3 separate regions of the Homo sapiens genome follow, and all the other regions are linked to region 3. The links come from fine-mapping of genetic effects on gene expression. A gene starts in region 3. Each other region holds a variant in brackets. All regions are shown on one strand. Distances are from middle to middle.

Evidence for each region. PIP is the estimated chance that this variant, and not a neighbour inherited with it, causes the effect.
Region 1: its variant is the best candidate, but not a certain one, in a credible set for the expression of PLEK in whole blood (INTERVAL, PIP 0.61).
Region 2: its variant is the best candidate, but not a certain one, in a credible set for the expression of PLEK in whole blood (TOPMed, PIP 0.80).

What each region holds. Positions count from the first base shown.
Region 1 is chr2:69,186,610-69,192,283 of GRCh38, reverse strand. All of the region lies in intron 16 of ANTXR1 (ANTXR cell adhesion molecule 1), which reads right to left. Among named protein-coding and RNA genes, the nearest start is that of MIR3126, 86 kb to the right of the region's middle. The variant C/T (reference allele first, on the strand shown) is at 2,774.
Region 2 is chr2:68,429,580-68,435,253 of GRCh38, reverse strand. No RefSeq gene overlaps it. Among named protein-coding and RNA genes, the nearest start is that of FBXO48, 35 kb to the left of the region's middle. The variant G/A (reference allele first, on the strand shown) is at 2,995.
Region 3 is chr2:68,361,924-68,367,597 of GRCh38, reverse strand. PLEK (pleckstrin) reads right to left here and starts at 2,316. Exons shown (of 9, transcript NM_002664.3): 1 at 2,205-2,316. The coding sequence starts at 2,246. LOC101927723 (a long non-coding RNA gene) reads left to right here and starts at 1,194. Exons shown (of 2, transcript NR_187652.1): 1 at 1,194-2,183; 2 at 5,139-5,674. RefSeq lists enhancers at 2,277-2,356, 5,288-5,357.

The DNA.
Region 1 (5,674 bases), 820 kb before region 3:
CCTTGATTTTAGTCTAGTGAGACCCGTTTGGGGCTTATGACATCTGGAACTGTAAGATAATAGATTCGTGTTGATTAAACCTTTAAGTTTCTGGTAATTCATTACAGCGACAAGAGGAAATTAATACAGTCCTTCTCACTCCCTGATATATTCTATGTTAATTTGCTGATTGTCTGTGCCCCCTGGAATGCCAGCTCCATGAAAGCAGGGGTATTGATGGTTTTGTTCACTTCTGTCTGCCTATCCCTTAGGACAACATCTGGTGCTCAATATATATTTGTTGGAGGAATGAATGTAACTAAGTGGTAGGTGCTTCCATGAGTGTTCTCTAATTGAATTGTCCCAGCAGTCCCAGAGGGCTGTGGAGAGGAAATGGAGGGTCAAAGAGAGATCAAGTAACTTGCCCAAAGGCAGATGGTTTATAAACCAGAGTTGAGATTGGAATCCATGTCTGTCTAATTCCAAATCACATATGCTTTCTATTACACCAATTGCAGATTCTTCCTCATGCAGATCTTCTGGTGAAAGCGCTTTAATTTAGATCCTTTAGAACATAGGGTTTCTCAGCTGTGGGTTGCAACCCTTTAAGCCCTTATGAAATCAATTTTGTATGGGACCAGAACTTTTAAGAAATAGAATAGAAGAGAAAATAGTAATTGCACATGGTGAGGATAAGCATTATTTTGTGAAAAATTTATCTCAGTTAAGTGTGTATGGGTGTGTGTATGACTGTGTGTGCACAAACTGGGCCAAAATGTAAAATGTATTTCCTACCCAAGCCTTAGGAACGTTTGAAAATCCTGATCTTGCAGGGGTCTTTGAATGACAGTGCTGGGAAGGCTGGAGGAGTCTAAAGAGTTTAAGTTCCTGGACACAAAGCATTTATATAGGGGCAGTGTTAAGAAGCATCTCAAATATTTCATGTTCTGAAATGATTTTCTGGTGGATTATATACACATATAAAATTGTGTTCTTTAATCTTTATAAACTGTTGTTTGAGTTCTTGTGGGTTTAACTTTGTCTTGTGGGTTAAACTTTGTCTTGCCAAGTGTAGTGTTTCTCATCTATTTTGGCAAGGAATTTACAAACGCCTTGAAAAATATTTTGAAATGATTTTAGAATGCTGGATAGAACTGCTGCTGTGTGCTGCATGGTTTTCTGTATTAAGCCGTTCCAATCACCAGCTAAATGTTTTCCTTTAAGGTTCTTTTGGATAAGCATTTATATTTCAGGATGTAACCAGGTGGGTTTCCTGGATGAATGCCTCTTTTTTCTTTCCCCTTCGTTTTCAGAAGGAGAGGACTCCCAGCATTTGGGTTTGTAAATCAGCCCACCCACAGAGCTGTGTGTGCTAATCACCCAACTCTGTGACAAATGGGCAATGAGATGGGGCAGAAAGAAGAACACTGGGCTGTTGAAGGAACACATTAATTAACTCAGCAGAAATTTAAAGTTACATGCATAGCAAAAGACCAGAAACCACCTAGATGTATAATACCAGGAGAATGAGTAGAAAATGATGTTTCTTTGTGGCAACAGATCACCCTACAGTGTAGTGTTTAAGCACAAAGTGACTGAAGCCAGCCTGCCCCAGTTTGTACTGTGGGTCTCCTTTTCACCAGCTCTATGGGTTAGATGAGTAGTTTCATCTCCCTAAGCCTTACTTTTCTCATATTTAAAGTGGAGATGATAATACTGTCTACTCTACAGACTTGCTATAAGACTTAAAATTAAATATTGAAGTTAGGTACTTGCCTCATAAAAGGTATTCATTAAATGTTACCTATGATCATAGTAAAGTCATTAAAATGATCATTTGGGAGGCTCTGTAGAGAGATGGAAAAGAATGTAATACAGAGTGTAGGAATCCAGCAATTTGAACTTTGTAAGCATGCATCTGTCCATCTTCTATTCTGTGCTTCTCCAAGACTATTTTCCTCTTACCCCCAAGCCACAGTTTTTATTCCTTCTGCCCCAATCACTCCACCCAAATTGCTCTTGCTAAGGCCACCCACGGCATCCCGACTGCCAAATGCCTTGACACTCATTTTGCTTGGTTCTTTGGGGAGATCCGCTGTGCTGGGCCTCTCCCCTGCACACTCTCCCTCAGTCTCTGTGCCACGAGCTTCTACCTGCTCCCTCCGACCTCTCTGCCAAGTCCTTTTCAGCTTCTTCTGCTCCTCCCCCTCTGCCTACACCTGACATGGTGGCCTTCATTTGGCACCTCTATTCTCATCTCTCAGCTGAGTGCTCTCATCTAGTCTCATGGGTCCAACTTCCACCTATCTGCCGGCAACTCAAAAATTCTATACTCAGCCCAGTCCTCTCTTGAGCTCCAGATCTGGGTATCTATTTACCTATTAAATCTTAATTGTAATGTGGATGTATCATATCACATCACAGCTATCAAAAAGTCAAACATTATAAACTGAACTAACTCTTCTCCCCAAACCTGCTCCTCCTTTTGCACACCCTGCCTTGATTCATGGCACCACCAATCTCTCCAGATGGGCACACTGGGTACCAGGAATCATTCTAACCTCCCTTCTCTCTGCCACCTGCTCATGTCCAACATCAACCGTGTCTCGTTAATGTTCTCTCTGTAGCAGCTCTGCTGCCGCCTCTTCCCATCCACCCCTGACCCACCACCTCCACAGCTCCTGCCTGGGCCCAGGCCCTCATCATCTGTCACTCATTCTGGGAATAGTTTCCTGATTGGCCTTTCATCTCCAGGGTTCCTGTCCTCTCTCCTATTGATTAATAAAGAATTTTA[C/T]TGTGAGCCCAAATGGATGCACTGCAGTCAATAAAATGAACCATGAAACATCTTACTGGCCAGTGTGAATTTGGGTAAGTTACCTAACCCCTCTGTGCTCTGGTTTTGCATTTGTAGTTTCTACTGATCTGGGTGTCTATTTACCGATGGATAAGTACTTTCTACTTTCAAGGGCTGTTATCAATAATAAAGGCATTAGTGCATAGAAAGCGCTGCCCGACTTGCAGGGCATGCTTGATCCGGGTGAGCTGCTGTCATTGGGCTCTTCTGGCCAAGGCGAGATTAGCTAGTTCCAGGTGTATCCTTAGCATTCTGAGTTCTGATTGTCCCACAAATGAACCTAAACTCTCCAGTCTGTGGCATAGAAAACAATCCAGGCAATCAATACAACCTATAACCTCTTTCTACTCCTACAACAGGTAGTTTTTATGCAAGAGCTTTAGAAAAACAGTGTTTGCAACCAAGAAGTAAGCTTTAGAAAAAACAGTGTTTACAACCAAAATCAGAATAAAAAATAACTCTCAAAATTCAATGAGCACTGCATGACAAAGGCTCTTGGAACCTTGATTTTTCTGAATGTAGGCAGAAGTCTGTCATTTAAAGACAGTAGTAGTGGGCTCGTTAATAACAACCCTTTGGGGCTAGATGTGCCATAGAAGAGTCTTCTAAACAGTCTCTGGGCTTCACCTAAAGTCTTAGAGGATCCTTCTGAGTTGCCTCCGCTTTATCTATCTCAGACTTGGATGTCTGTCATGCACAAACCTCTCCACAGCATGCACTTAAGACACTGGTCCTCACTCCCTGGCAAAATGCCCAACTGCTTCTGTGAAGCTAGGACAAAGATTTATCCACAAGCCTCAAGCCCTCTGGCAGATTGTATTAGCTGACATTTATAAATAGCTTTCTTTCATTTGAAGTTGACAAATTTTGACTATAAAATGAGAAATTTACCAATTCCATGCTCCCAAACTGTATCTTAGCCACAGAAAATACCTGCCAATTCACAAAGGCAAAGTGGAAGTTCTATGTAAACTCTAGCTTTGGTTTCTTTCTAAGCAATAAGACTGTGCTGGGAATGATTATGCAGCCAGCATTCATAGCATTCTGGAGGTAGGGAGCCGGGCACGGTGGCACATGCCTATAATCCCAACACTCTGAGAGGCTGAGGTGGGAGGATCACTTGAGAGCAGCTTGGACAACACAGTGAGATCCCCATGTTTACAAAAAATTAAAAAAATTAGCTGGGTGTGATGGCTTATATCTGTAGTCCCAGCTACTTGGGAGACTGAGGTAGGAGAATCCCTTGAACCTAGGTTGATGCTACAGTGAGCTATATGATCGCACCACTGCACTACAGCCTGGGCGACAGAACAAGACCCTATTTTTAAATCAAACAAACAAAAAACCCAAAGCACCCTGGGTCATCAGCTTTTGTGGTGGGGTTTCCTCTTTTTTTTTTTTTTTTTTTTTTTTTTTGCCAGGCAGCAGTTGTATCTTTTCTTCTGGTTTGTCTGCCTTAGCCAGCTGGAAGACAGTCAGAGATTGAGAATTCTGAGAGTAGTTCAACTTATAAGGCCACTATAAACTGACACCTGACTTTTTACACTTTGAAATACATGGTAGGCCAGGTGCGGTGGCTTATGCCTGTAATCCTAGCACTATGGGCGGCCGAGGCGGTCAGATCAAGAGGTCAAGAGATTGAGATCATCCTGGCCAACATGATGAAACCCAGTCTGTACCAAAAAAAATACAAAAATTAGCTGGATGTGGTGGCACCCGCCTGTAGTCCCAGCTACTCGGGAGGCTGAGGCAGGAGAATCACTTGAACCTGGGAGGTGGAGGTTGTAGTGAGCTGAGATTGCGCCACTGCACTCCAGCCTGGTGACAGAGTGAGACTCTGTCTCAAAAAAAAAAAAAAAAAAAAAGAAATACATGATAAATAGTGTGACCCAGCTTTCCCCCAAAGGAAATAAATTAATGGATTTAACGGATAACGTCAGAAACTTTCCCTACACACAGACACACATGCACTCATGAGTGTGTGCATGCCATGCATAGGATAGATTTTGTTGCGCTTTTTTTTTTCTTCTTTTGGTTTTTAAGAAAATTTGCCCATATAGCTGGGCATGACTTCACTTGTCTGAAATGGTCAGCTCCAATTTAATGAGAAGCACGGGGTATTGTAAATCCGGGGGTGAAAACCAAGCAAAGGAAAATGCAGGCTAAATATCAGGGAAAATTTCCCGATCATGAGTCTGGAATGAGGAAGGGGGGAAGTGTGGTTGGTGTGGTTGGTGCCTTAAATTAGACGGGGAGATGGTGGGTGGAGAAGAGCCCACTGTGGACTTCTTCCCTCCGTGTGTTCTCTCTGGGTTTGCTTGGCAAATGTGCTCACCTGCTTCTCAAAAACCCCATTTCATGTAAAGCAATGGGTCTAATGCAATGCAATTCAGTAAGTACACGATTCTGGCTCCTTTCACTGGGGAGCCATGAGTCTTTCCAATACCTGCTGACAGTTTTGTGTGAGGTAGAGCTGTTGTTCTCCTTGCTTATAGCAGAGGTACAAGGCAGGCAGCGAGTGGATGGGTCACTCTCCCTGACCTGCCGGCCCCCATCCATTCTCTGCCTGCCTTCTCCATGCCTTGGAAGCCTGCCTCTGGATCACCTAGCTGCCCTTTGGTCTTGGTCTGTAAAGAGCCAAGGATTTGCAGGGCAAGAGGCAACATTATATAGGTACTTATATAACCTTTTAAAAATGTAAAAACCATTCTTTGTTTGCAGATCATATAAAAACAGGTGGATTTAGATTGTCAACTAAAGAAACAGTTCCTGTCGAGTAGTCTCTTTGCAGGGCTACAGCTCTTTCTGGAACCCAGTAACACCATTTCCCCACATGCTCTT
Region 2 (5,674 bases), 68 kb before region 3:
GAGTCACTCTATCTCCAGAGATGAAGCCAGCAAAGGGACAGACAAGTGAGACAGAGGGAAACTAGGAAGTAAAGTGAAATGCTGCAAGGAGGAAGGGAGGGACTATTGACATCAAGTGCTGCTCATAGGTCAAATGATGGAACCAGTAGGCCAATTGGCTCTGATGGCTCACTACTCCACCACTCCACTGCTACTTTCATCTCACCCTCAGGCCCTTTTTCTCCCCATCTCCCATGCCCACTGTGCTTTTGCCATACTGATCTTGATGCTCCTCAGGCAGACTCATGCCTCAGGGCCGTGCACTTGCAGTTTCCTCTGTCTAGCATGCTTTTTCCCCAGATGTCAACATGGCTCATTCTCTTCCTTTAGGTTTCTGCTCCAGTGCCATTTTATTAGCAAGGACTTCCCTGTCTAGCCTTGCCAAGAGAACACCACTGGCCACTGACCCTTGACTCTATTCCTATTATCTCACATATTAATGTCATAATATCATTATGACATATTTATAATGTGATAAACATCATAAATAGATAAAGCTATTTGGTAAGAATATCAGCTCAAGGAGGTCAGCAACTAAAATATTGCCTGGCATGTAGTGATTAATTGATAAGTATTTTGAATGCATATCAATTAATTGAATGCAATGAATAAAAACAGCTGATCAGAATATTTTTATGGTAACTAGGTACAGCCTAATTATTAATCTTCCAAGAAGAGTGAATACCCCAACCTTGACTAAAGGACATATTTTTAGAATCTGAAGAACAAACGTCTTGCAAACACTCTCCCCAGCCCTTTTATCTAACAGGAGGTAAATGGCTACCTGAGAGCATTCTTTTCAAAGTTGTAGGTTAGGCCAGGCATGGTGGCTCATGTAATCCCAGCACTTTGGGAGGCTGACGTGGGAGAATGGCTTGAGCCCAGGAGTTTGAGACCAGCCTGAGCAACATGGTGAAACCCTGTCTCTACTCTTGAAAAAAAAAGTAAAAAAACAAAGTTCTAGGGTAGATACTTTCCCATTTTTGAATACCCTGTAGTAACAACTCTTTCTAACGTGTTTAACTTCATTTTGAATGAATTAAAAAGTAAATGCTATATAAGCATTTGTTTGCACACAGATTAATACAAGAATCACACAGTACTAATGCCTACATATTACTTTAAATTTTATTCCATTTTAAATCTTAATTTGCCTATATTAACTATTTAATAAACTATGTGTATATGTAATTTTGAGACTTCGCTTTTCAACTAACACTTTTATTGATTTTAGAAATTTCAGCTTTTAAAAACCTGGCTTTGTAAGAGAAAGTATGCAAGGCAGTCAACCAATTGATGGTGGCGGTGGGACTTCTGGAGGGGTTGCTGCCATCATGCTGCCTGCAGTGGGGAGATGCCAGTGGTGGCATCAGGAGTGGCTTCAGGGGCAGCAGTGGCAGCAGTGGGCCCTTGTGCCCTGTGTCCCCAAGACGGCCAACTGTACCAACCCCACTCTCATACAGCTGGGCAGGACCCACTCCCAGGCCTGTAGTCTCCACCAGGGCCTCAGCCTTGCTCCCTGCTGCATCCCAGGAACCCATGAGCACCCAGCCACAGGCACAGCTGGGACTCACAGGGCTGCCCCTGGAGCATCAGGTTCATTTGTGCAGGAGTTGGCTGGGGTCGCTGCCCAACCTGCACCTCATCCACTGCTGCTACAGGGAAAATGTAGGAAGGAGGTGTGGCCAGGACTGTGCACTCCATGGAGCACACAGGAGCTGGGAACAAGCAAGAGCCCCGCCCTTTCCGAGTTGGCAGGGCAGAGCACCCCAGAGGCAACTGCAGCCACCCAAGCTGCAGCAGCAACCAGGGCACCCCTGTGCTCTCAGGAGCCAGAAGCAGGCAGGAGCCCCACCATCCCAGGCACAGCGGCAGCTGCCCAAGCTGTGGCTGCAGATCCAAGCATCTCTGCACTCTCAGAGGCCTGAGAAGGCATGCCCCCTTCCCCTGCAGGACAGGAAATGCCTGCTTCCACTGCCTGGCTTCTCCCTGCTGCCAGCACCTGCTCCAATCTTGGAGCAAAGGCGGGGCCAAGCTCAGGTGCTGTCACAGCCCAGCCAGGTGTGCACACACTCGGGGAAGCACTGACACGCCAGCCCCCTGCTGCCTCGGCCCCGTCTGGACTTAGGGCATTGACAAACACAGGAGGGAGGCTGAGTTGGGGGGCTGGAGAAAGCCCAGTGCTGGCCTAAAGGTGCCCCTTGGCATGAAAAGCCTGAGCGCCACGAACAGTGACAGGAGGCAGACAGGCTCCTGAGTAGAAGTGGGTGGGTACCTGGTGAAGCCGCACTTTCAAGCCGGGGAGGGCCTGAAGCCTGGGGGCTGGGCCGCCAGTCCTGAGGACCCAAGGGAGAACTTGTGGTGCTTTTTCTTGGGCCTGCCAATGGCTGCCCATGGACCAATCAGCACACACTTCCTCCTCTCTGAGACCTATAAAAACACCAGACTCAGCCAGAGTCAAAGAGAGGATGGAGAGATGATGGGGAGAAGACAGAGAGATGAAGGGATGACCTGCCTGCAGAGAGGATCCATCTACTCCAGGGCCTCCTCTCTGCTGAGAGCTGCAGAGATGACAGGACAACCTGCCTGCAGAGAGACACTACCTCTGTGCTGAGAGCTGAAGAGATGACAAGATGACCTGCCTGAAGAGAGGATTCACCCACTCCAGGGCCTCCTCTCTGCTGACAGCTGCAGAGACAACAGGATGACCTGCCTGCAGAGAGGTGCTACCTCTGTGCTGAGAACTGAAGAGGTGACAGGATGACCTGCCTGCAGAGAGGACCTACCCTCTCTGCTGAGAGCTGAACACTCCTCGGATTTACCTGACTACAGAGGGGAGCTACCCTCTCTGCGAGAGCTGACCACTCATTGTGACACCTTGGCTACAGAGAGGAGCTACCTACTGTGGTTCTCCTCTGAGCTGTTCTATTGCTTAATAAAACTCCTCTTCATCTC[G/A]CTCACCCTCCACTTGCCTGCATACCTCATTCTTCCTGGACATAGGACAAGAACTCAGGACCCACTGAATGGCAGGGCTAAAAGAGCTGTAACACAAACAGGGCTGAAACATGCCCCTGCTCGCCACATTGCAGGCAAAAAGAGGGAGAGAAGAGCTGCGGCCCTTTGGGGATCCCAGGCCTGGGTGTTCCCTGAGCCAGGGCTGTGACTCCCTCTTTGGAGCCCTGCAGCTTCTGGAGTCTGCAAGCTTCCAGGCCCCAGAGCATTTGCCAGTGCCAGCTATGGAAGCTGCTTGTGGTGCACCTAGTCCAGATGCAGCCTTGCAGGGAGCCAGCACCCACACCAGCACCTGGAGTTGCTTGCCCCACAGCAGCAGCTGGCATGCCCAGCTATGTGCGGTGGCTAGACCCCACGCTCACTCACATACCCTTCATTACTCCACGCCTGGCTTGCCCTTGGCAGGCATGGGATCCAGGCCAGTAGCATGAGCTGAGTGCAGCCTGCTGGGCCAACTGGGTGGAACAAGCCCAGCAGGCCAGAACAAAACTTGGGCAAAGGCACCACTGGCCACAGAGGTTTCCAGCAGGCGAAGCGACACCACAAGGATCCCGTAACACAATGAGCATTTGTAGCCATCATCCCAGTGTGTGGATTGAGTAGAAAGAGAAATAGCGTGCCCTCACTAGTGCTTCCATACACATAGAGACCACAGACTTTGGAACAGCATCCCTGGCATCTTTGTTTTGGAATGACATTGAAACACTGAACCAAGTCAAATAAGGGGACATTTGCAACTTTGCTGACTCATTTGTCAAGAATAAAAAAATACACAGGCAAATTTGAATGAAGGCCAGGCACAGTGGCTCACACCTGTAATCTCAAGACTTTGGGAGGACGAAATGGGAGAATCACTTGAGCCCAGGAGTTCAAGACCAGCCTGGACAATATATCGAGAGGCCTGTAATTCCAGATATTTGGGAGGCTGAGATGAGAGAATTGTTTGAACCCAGAAGGTTGAGGCTGCAGTGAGACTTGATCACGCCACTGAATTCCAGACTGGGTAACATTGTAAGACCCTGTCTCAAAAAATATATTAAAAAAGCAAATGGAGAGAATGTGAGGAGAATCATCTGTGAAGGAAACTGGAAGGTCTTTTCCAATTTCTAACCATACAGTGGGCCCTGAGAAAACACCTTTATAGAGAGAGAATGATTAGAACATTCTCTCTAATAATAATGATAGTCACATGAATGTCTGTAAATGTATAGGCAACAGGATAGTATCAATAAGTTGAATATGCCTTTAACAAGCTGAATGTACCTTATTCTTTAGCCTTCTTGAAAATAAAAGCCTAACCTAGTCATCTACCTGCATGGGGAGAATAGGGTGGAATTAGAAGTGCAGATAGGTTGTAATTAGAGGCTTTTAGTGGCTGACAATCACTGAGCATCTGTTGAAAGATAAGTGAATAGTAAAATTAGAAAATTACAGCCTCCATCAAGGAATGCAGCCCTCCCAACATCTCGAGACCCATTTCAGACTTATAACCTCCAGAGCTGTGAGATAATAAATTTGTGTTGTTTTAAGCTTCTAAATTTGTGGTTACTTGTTACAACAATAGGAAACTCATACAATAATTTTTATAGAAAGAATATACAATTAAATGCAAAAAGTACACTCATCTTAAGTGTACAGCTTGAAGAGTTGTCTTCCACATATTAATTGAGTGTAGCTAATTCATAGACCAAGTCATAGCACATCCCAGCAGCAGCCTATGATTCCCTCCTGCAACTGCCCAATTTGTACACTGCACCCCTAAAAGGAAAGAAAAATTCATACATTCAAAATACTTCTCACACCAAATGTGTGGAGTTTACCTCACATTAAGCAATTCTCCAACTCTCCAGATACCAAGTGGGTGTACTACAATTTACTCATGACACTAACTACCCAGAGTTAGTGCAGACCCCATAGGTTGAGGACTCAGCCTCGCAAGGCTGAAACCAAATTTAGACACCAGTCAGTAGTCCCAAACTGTGACCTGTCCATCTGGCTAACTAGCTATCCATTGGGGGTTGCCATGACCTTCTCTTTAGGTTTGATAATTTGCTAGAATGGCTCACAGGACTCAAGAAAGTGCTTTACTTACAATTAGCAGTTTATTTTAAAGGATACCACTTAAGATCAGCCAGATGAAGAGATACACAGGACAAAGTATGAGGGTGGAGCTGAGAGGTTCCGTCCTGCTCCACATGCTGCACCCTCCCAGCAGGTCTGTGTTTCCACCAACCTGAAGTCCTCCAAGTCCTGTCAGTTAGGGGGTTTATGGAGTTTCTATTCGGTAGGCATGATTGACTAATTAGTGGTCCCCAACCTTTTTGGCACCAGGGACCAGTTTCATGGAAGACAATTTTTCCACAGATGGGGGGTGTGGTTTCAGGACGATTCAAGCACATTACATTTATCATTCAATTCTCATAAGGATGACGCAACCTAGATCCCTTGCATACTCGGTTCACAATAGGATTCACACTCCTACGAGAATCTAATGCTGCTGCTGATCTGACAGGAGGCGGAGCTCAGGCGGGAATCCTTGCTCACCCACTGCTCGCCTCCTGCTTTGCAGTCCAGTTCCTAACAGGCCATAGACTGGTACTGGTCCACAGCCTGGGGGTTGGGG
Region 3 (5,674 bases):
CACGTGAGGTAACTGAAGGAAACTTAATGTCTAAAGTAGTTAAGAACTTTAATACCTTCTCAGGAAACTCTGTCTTTAGGTTTAGTTCTGCAGCTGAAAAAGGGAATATTTCTGGACCAAACATTTCTTTAAAATATCAAATGAGACGCTGGAAGCTATGTGAGAGTGGAGGGTTGGAGAAGGGAGAGGATCAGAAAAAATAACTATTGGATACTAGGCATAGTACTTAGGTAACAAAATGATCTGTACAACAAACGCCTGTCACAGGAGTTTACCTATATAACAAGCCTGTACCTATACTCCTGAACCTAAAATTAAAGTTTTAGAAGAATAAAAAAAAAAAAGAGAATCTTAATGCATTATATCAGAGTGTTCAAAAGGTCCCAGAGAAAAATGCAGTAATTATGGAAGATGTAACTTGTAAACATGAAAATTATGGAAGATATAAATTGTAAAACTATCAATACAAAATTTCACTATTTAATTCCAGGCACATTTTCTAGATTGGCTTTTACAATCTGAGAGAACTACTCTCACTAATTAAAAACTATTTATTAATTTAAATCCACATGCTTGACAACCCTGACTCTATCATCCCCAATTTTTAGTGAGACAGCTTCACTTATTAGAAATTTAGTCTTCATATTTTTGTAATTTAGGGAGATTAAAATATGAGCATACAAACTTTATAACAGCAATTTTCATTGCAAGATGTTTTTAATTGTTTAAAAAAACAAACAAAAACTTGCAGAAATGTTCCTATTCACTTGCTCTTCTCAGGATACTAGCACAAGTGATCAGGAAAGGAATAAGTCAATATTAATTATTACCAGGTCTCGCCAATTATTATTGGTGCCTATTGCAAGTAATCTTTTACACTTCTATGTATAAGTGTGTCTTTTCCAAAGGATGTTTCGAAGCACAGCTGGCTACAGAGATTAGCAGCTGAGGGCCCACTTATTCTCCAGTACCAACTCATAGCTCTCACCATCACAAATACACTACAAATCCTAACTTGGAATAAATCTGCTTTAAGAAAATGCTGGAGTAATGAACAAAGTTCAGTGCCATGAATCAGAAACCTAAGCATCAGAGAAGGAGTGGCTGGTCACAACTGTCATAGCCATGTGACTTGGGGCAATCACCGAGCCTTCTGGGTCTGTCTCCTCTTCTGCAAATGAAGGAATTAGGCCAGATGACCTAGGGTCCCTCCAGCCTGAAGTCAAAATGGAAGCAGGCAGCAATGTGTGCTATTTAACCCCCCTTACAGGTAGAACATTGTAGGTTAAAACGTGAAACAAATGAGTAGCCTAAAACAGACTCACATTCACTGTTCATTCAACTAAAAAGCTAAGCACCTGAAGGAAGGCACTACGTTCAGCTCATTTCTGAAACAATCCACTCACTAAGGTTAGTGTGAGCATATCTGTGTATATAGGTGTTGCCCACAGGACACCAAGTCCTATGTGTGAATTCACATCCCGGGGAGCTTTCACAACCACACAGCACACACTCAGCATCCGAAGAAAGACAAACAGCACTAAGAAAATTCAATTTTCATGATGCACACCAGGGAGGCTAAGCCTTTTTCAGTACCCTAATCTTTAAAATGGTGCATCTACCACCTCGATGCCACATTATGCAAATTTACTAAGAATTGTGAGTGAAGAGATTTCAGCCCAATTAAAAAAAGATAAGGTTTTTTTTAAACGTGTCAATTCCAAGAAGATGGCCCAAGAAATAAGCCGTAATTACTCTATCATTATATCAACTCTTTAATCACTTTTTTCCCCTTGCCTCCCAAAAAAAGAACTGAGGGGAAGTGGAATTTAAATAAAAAATGAATAGTCCCTCCAAGAAACCTCCATAGAAGAGGAGTATATCTTCTGACAGAACACATCTGTGTGCCTCTTAAAAAGGATATTCTAAATCTGGAGGGAGTTAGCTTAGATCCCCACCTTCCAGGCCCTGCCATCTGGAATTCTCAGACCCGTAATATCAAACTGTAAGGAAGCCGGGGCTGGATGAGTATCCCCACTCCCCTAACCCCACTCCAACATTCTATGTGCTACCACGCTCCCCTATTTCAACCCAACTGGTTGAACAGGAAACATTCCTAAGATGAGCAGGTAGCCGGTGGAGCTGAACCCAAGTCTCCCCAGCCCATGTCCACTGACACCCTGGTAAGTGGCACCTTCGCTCACCTTCTTCACAAGGTAGCCCTCTCTGATCCGCTTTGGTTCCATGCTGGCTGGACAGGCAGATGCAAAGGTCACTCTCAGGCAACTCCTCTCAGCAGCTGGGCCTCCTCTGCATGCTGAGGTGGCTGTGGGCCGCCTTTTCTACAGCAGGTCGCTTTCACAATTTCCCTTCTGCTGGCGGTCGCATGATCACATCCTCTTCCCCTCACTGGGTTGGAAGATCAGAATAAGGAACTGCAGAGTAAACCACCCATTCCTTGCTAATGCTGGAGACTTATTAAAACCACAGTTGGGTTGAATATTTACCTAAGGGAAATTCTTACTACCATACAGAAAATCCCTCTTTTAAAGAGAAAAAGAAGTGATGAAAGGAAGAGGAAGATGAACAAGAAAAACTTGTTGGTGAAAATTGTCCTGAGTAAGGATTATTCTTGAGATCCTGGAAATGCCCAATAAAAATGCCAAGAAATTCAGAACCATCTGGTTAGCATAACAAAGTTAACTACTAAATGAATGCCTACTTCTCTCTATGCCAAGCCCTGTATCAAGTGTTTCTCAGCCTACTTATTTTAAACTAAATTAGTCTGCACATCGGCCAGGCATGGTAGCTCACGCCTGTACTCCCAGCACTTTGGGAGGCCAAGGCAGATGGATCACCTGGGGTCAGGAGTTCAAGACCAGCCTGGCCAACATGGTGAAACCTTGTCTCTACTAAAAATACAAAAATTAGCCGGGCATGGTGGCGTGTGCCTGTAGTCCCAGCTACTCGGGAGGCTGAGGCAGCAGAATCACTTGAACCTGGGAGGCGGAGGTTGCAGTGAGCCGAGATTGGTCCACTGCACTCCAGCCTGGGCGACAGAGAAAGACTTCATCTCAAAACAAACAACAACAAAAATGAGTCCACACATCAAACCCATAGGGAAAGTATATTATTTTCCTTATCTTAGAGTAAGGAAACTCAGGCTCAGAGAAGAAAAGTTGTCTCAAGTTGACGCTGCAGGTCACAGGGGAAAGCAGAAGAACCAGGGAGGGATGTGCTAGGGTGCCACTGCCTCACATCAGGCATGAGAACAGGTGTTCCACGTTGAGTGCTGATCTCACAGTCAGCCTGTAAAAAGAAGTCCATCATCAAACAGGTTTTTGAGAAACTTTACAAAATAATCCCAGGTTGGCAACTCCTCTAAATGATGAACAAATTAAAGACCTTCGCCCCGCCAAAGTACTACAGTAAAGAATCCTATAATGGTGTTTTCCAAACTTACTTCGCCATAGCATTCTTTTTTGAACAATTTATGTTAACTTTTTTTGTCATAAATTGAATTAGATCTCCCAAAAAAGAAGTCCTAACCCTTAGCACTTCAGAATGCATCCTTATTTGGAAATAGGGTCATTGTAGATATAATTAGTTAAGATGAGGTCATACTGAAACAAGTGGGCCCTTAATCCAATGTGACTGGTGTCCTTATAAGAAAAGGGCACACAGAAAACAGCCATGTGACAACAGAGTGATGCATTTACAAGCCAAGGAACGCCAAGGATGGCCAGCAACCCCCAGAAGCTGGAAGAGGCACGCAACAATTCTCTCCTAGAGTTGCTATAGAGAACATGGTGCTGACGACACCTTGATTTCAGACTTACGGCCTCCAGAACTGTAAGACAATAAATTTCCATTGTTTTAAGCCACCAGTTTGTGGTACTTTGTTATGGCAGCCCCAGGAAACCAATATAATCCTGAAAAACGAATATTCCATAGAATAAACTTAGAGACCCGTTAATCTGACCATGTGAAAATGAGCAAGTTTGTTATTACTTTGTGCCTCAGTTTTCTCATCTGTAATACGGGGATAATAACACCTATCCAATGAGGTCATTCTGAAGATTAAATGAGATAGACATGGAAGTATTTAGAAGAGTGTCTGAAACATAACTAGTATCCATAAATATTAGTTGTTCTTCATCTTCAAGGCAAATCTCCGTTATCCTAGAGCTGATCCTTTTCAATGATAAGTTCAACAGAGATGATGAAAGCAATCGTAGGACTAGATTTTCCTCATTACACCCGTCAGTGTTCTTTCACTGCAATCAACAGATAACAACTCTGGCTAATAGAGGCAAATAGGAATTTACTGGAAGAGAATGGAGTGGCCCACAGACTGCAGGAAAAATGAAGACTGGGGTCTTTGAAAGGACAGGAATCAGGGCAGTTGTGGGGTTCCAGGAAGCAAGACACCAAGATGAAAGAATGCCAGTGGTTTTCAGACTCTGCAGTAGTCTCCAGGGATCAGGCCTCTGATTGGCCTAACTTGGCCTAGTGCTTCTCTCTCCGGTATCTGAAGGGGGAACATGTGAACCGACAGCCCCAGCAGGACCATGCTCAATGGGAGAAGGGAGGTGTCCCCTAAAGTAAAATCAAGATGCTATTAACAATAGATGAGCGATGGCTCCGAGAAAGGCAAAACTGACAGACGTCCACGAGGGCATCTGAGGAGCCAGGAAAGTTAGGGGAAAGAAGAAGTTCTGTTCTTGGGGTTTTCTGAGAGCTTCCTGATTCCCTCTCCTCTTCCCTCCAGCTGTGTTTCTAGCTAACAGTCACTGCCCCTGTATTTCTCACTTTTCATTTTATGCTAATATCCATTACTTAAAATCGTTGATGGTTTCTTTTCAGTTTCTCATTGCACCAAAATTAATTAGAAATTGTTATAAAGTGTTGGGGGCTGAGAGTAGAGGGATCAACGTTTGATGTCACCTGAGCAAAACAGGAACAAATAAAAGGGTAATTTTCTGTATCTGCACTCAAACAAGTATTTTGCTATGTCTGTATAGTCAATGGAAACCACTCTTAGATTTACCAAGTCTGATTTCATAGTTAAATATATCTCCTTTTGTTTAACTGACCAAGTGACTTCTAATTTGGAATGTCTTCACTGTTTGTCCTAGCATGATCAGAAGGCTTTAAAGAACCCTCACTCAGAAACCTCATATTATTTTTGGATGCCTCCGGTGTAAAAGCACCCCCTGCGTTCCGAATAATTCATTTCAAGAAACATGGTATTAAGTGTTTAGTATGTACCAGGCGCCTGAATAGGTGCAGGGGTAAAAATGTCTTGACACCAAGGAACCTCCGGCATTTGTGAATCTGCTGAACATCGCCATTGATGGACTGGATGCTGCCGCCTTTGCCCCTCCCCCTCCTGCCACGTGTCATCGCGCCTACTTAGCGACACCTAGTGGTCAGTAAAGAGAACTATCTGAATCAATGACGCCTTTCAGGACTTCTCTCAACAGAGTTTGACCAAGTTTTCTTCTGCTGTGTCAGATCCCTCTCCCAGATCAGATCATTAGAACCTCCTCCAGTATCTTATGTATATGTGTCTAGAATGACTTTTTTTTGAGACAGAGTCTTGCTCTGTCGCCCAGGCTGGAGTGCAATGGCCTGATCTTGGCTCACTGCAACCTCCACCTCCCAGGTTCAA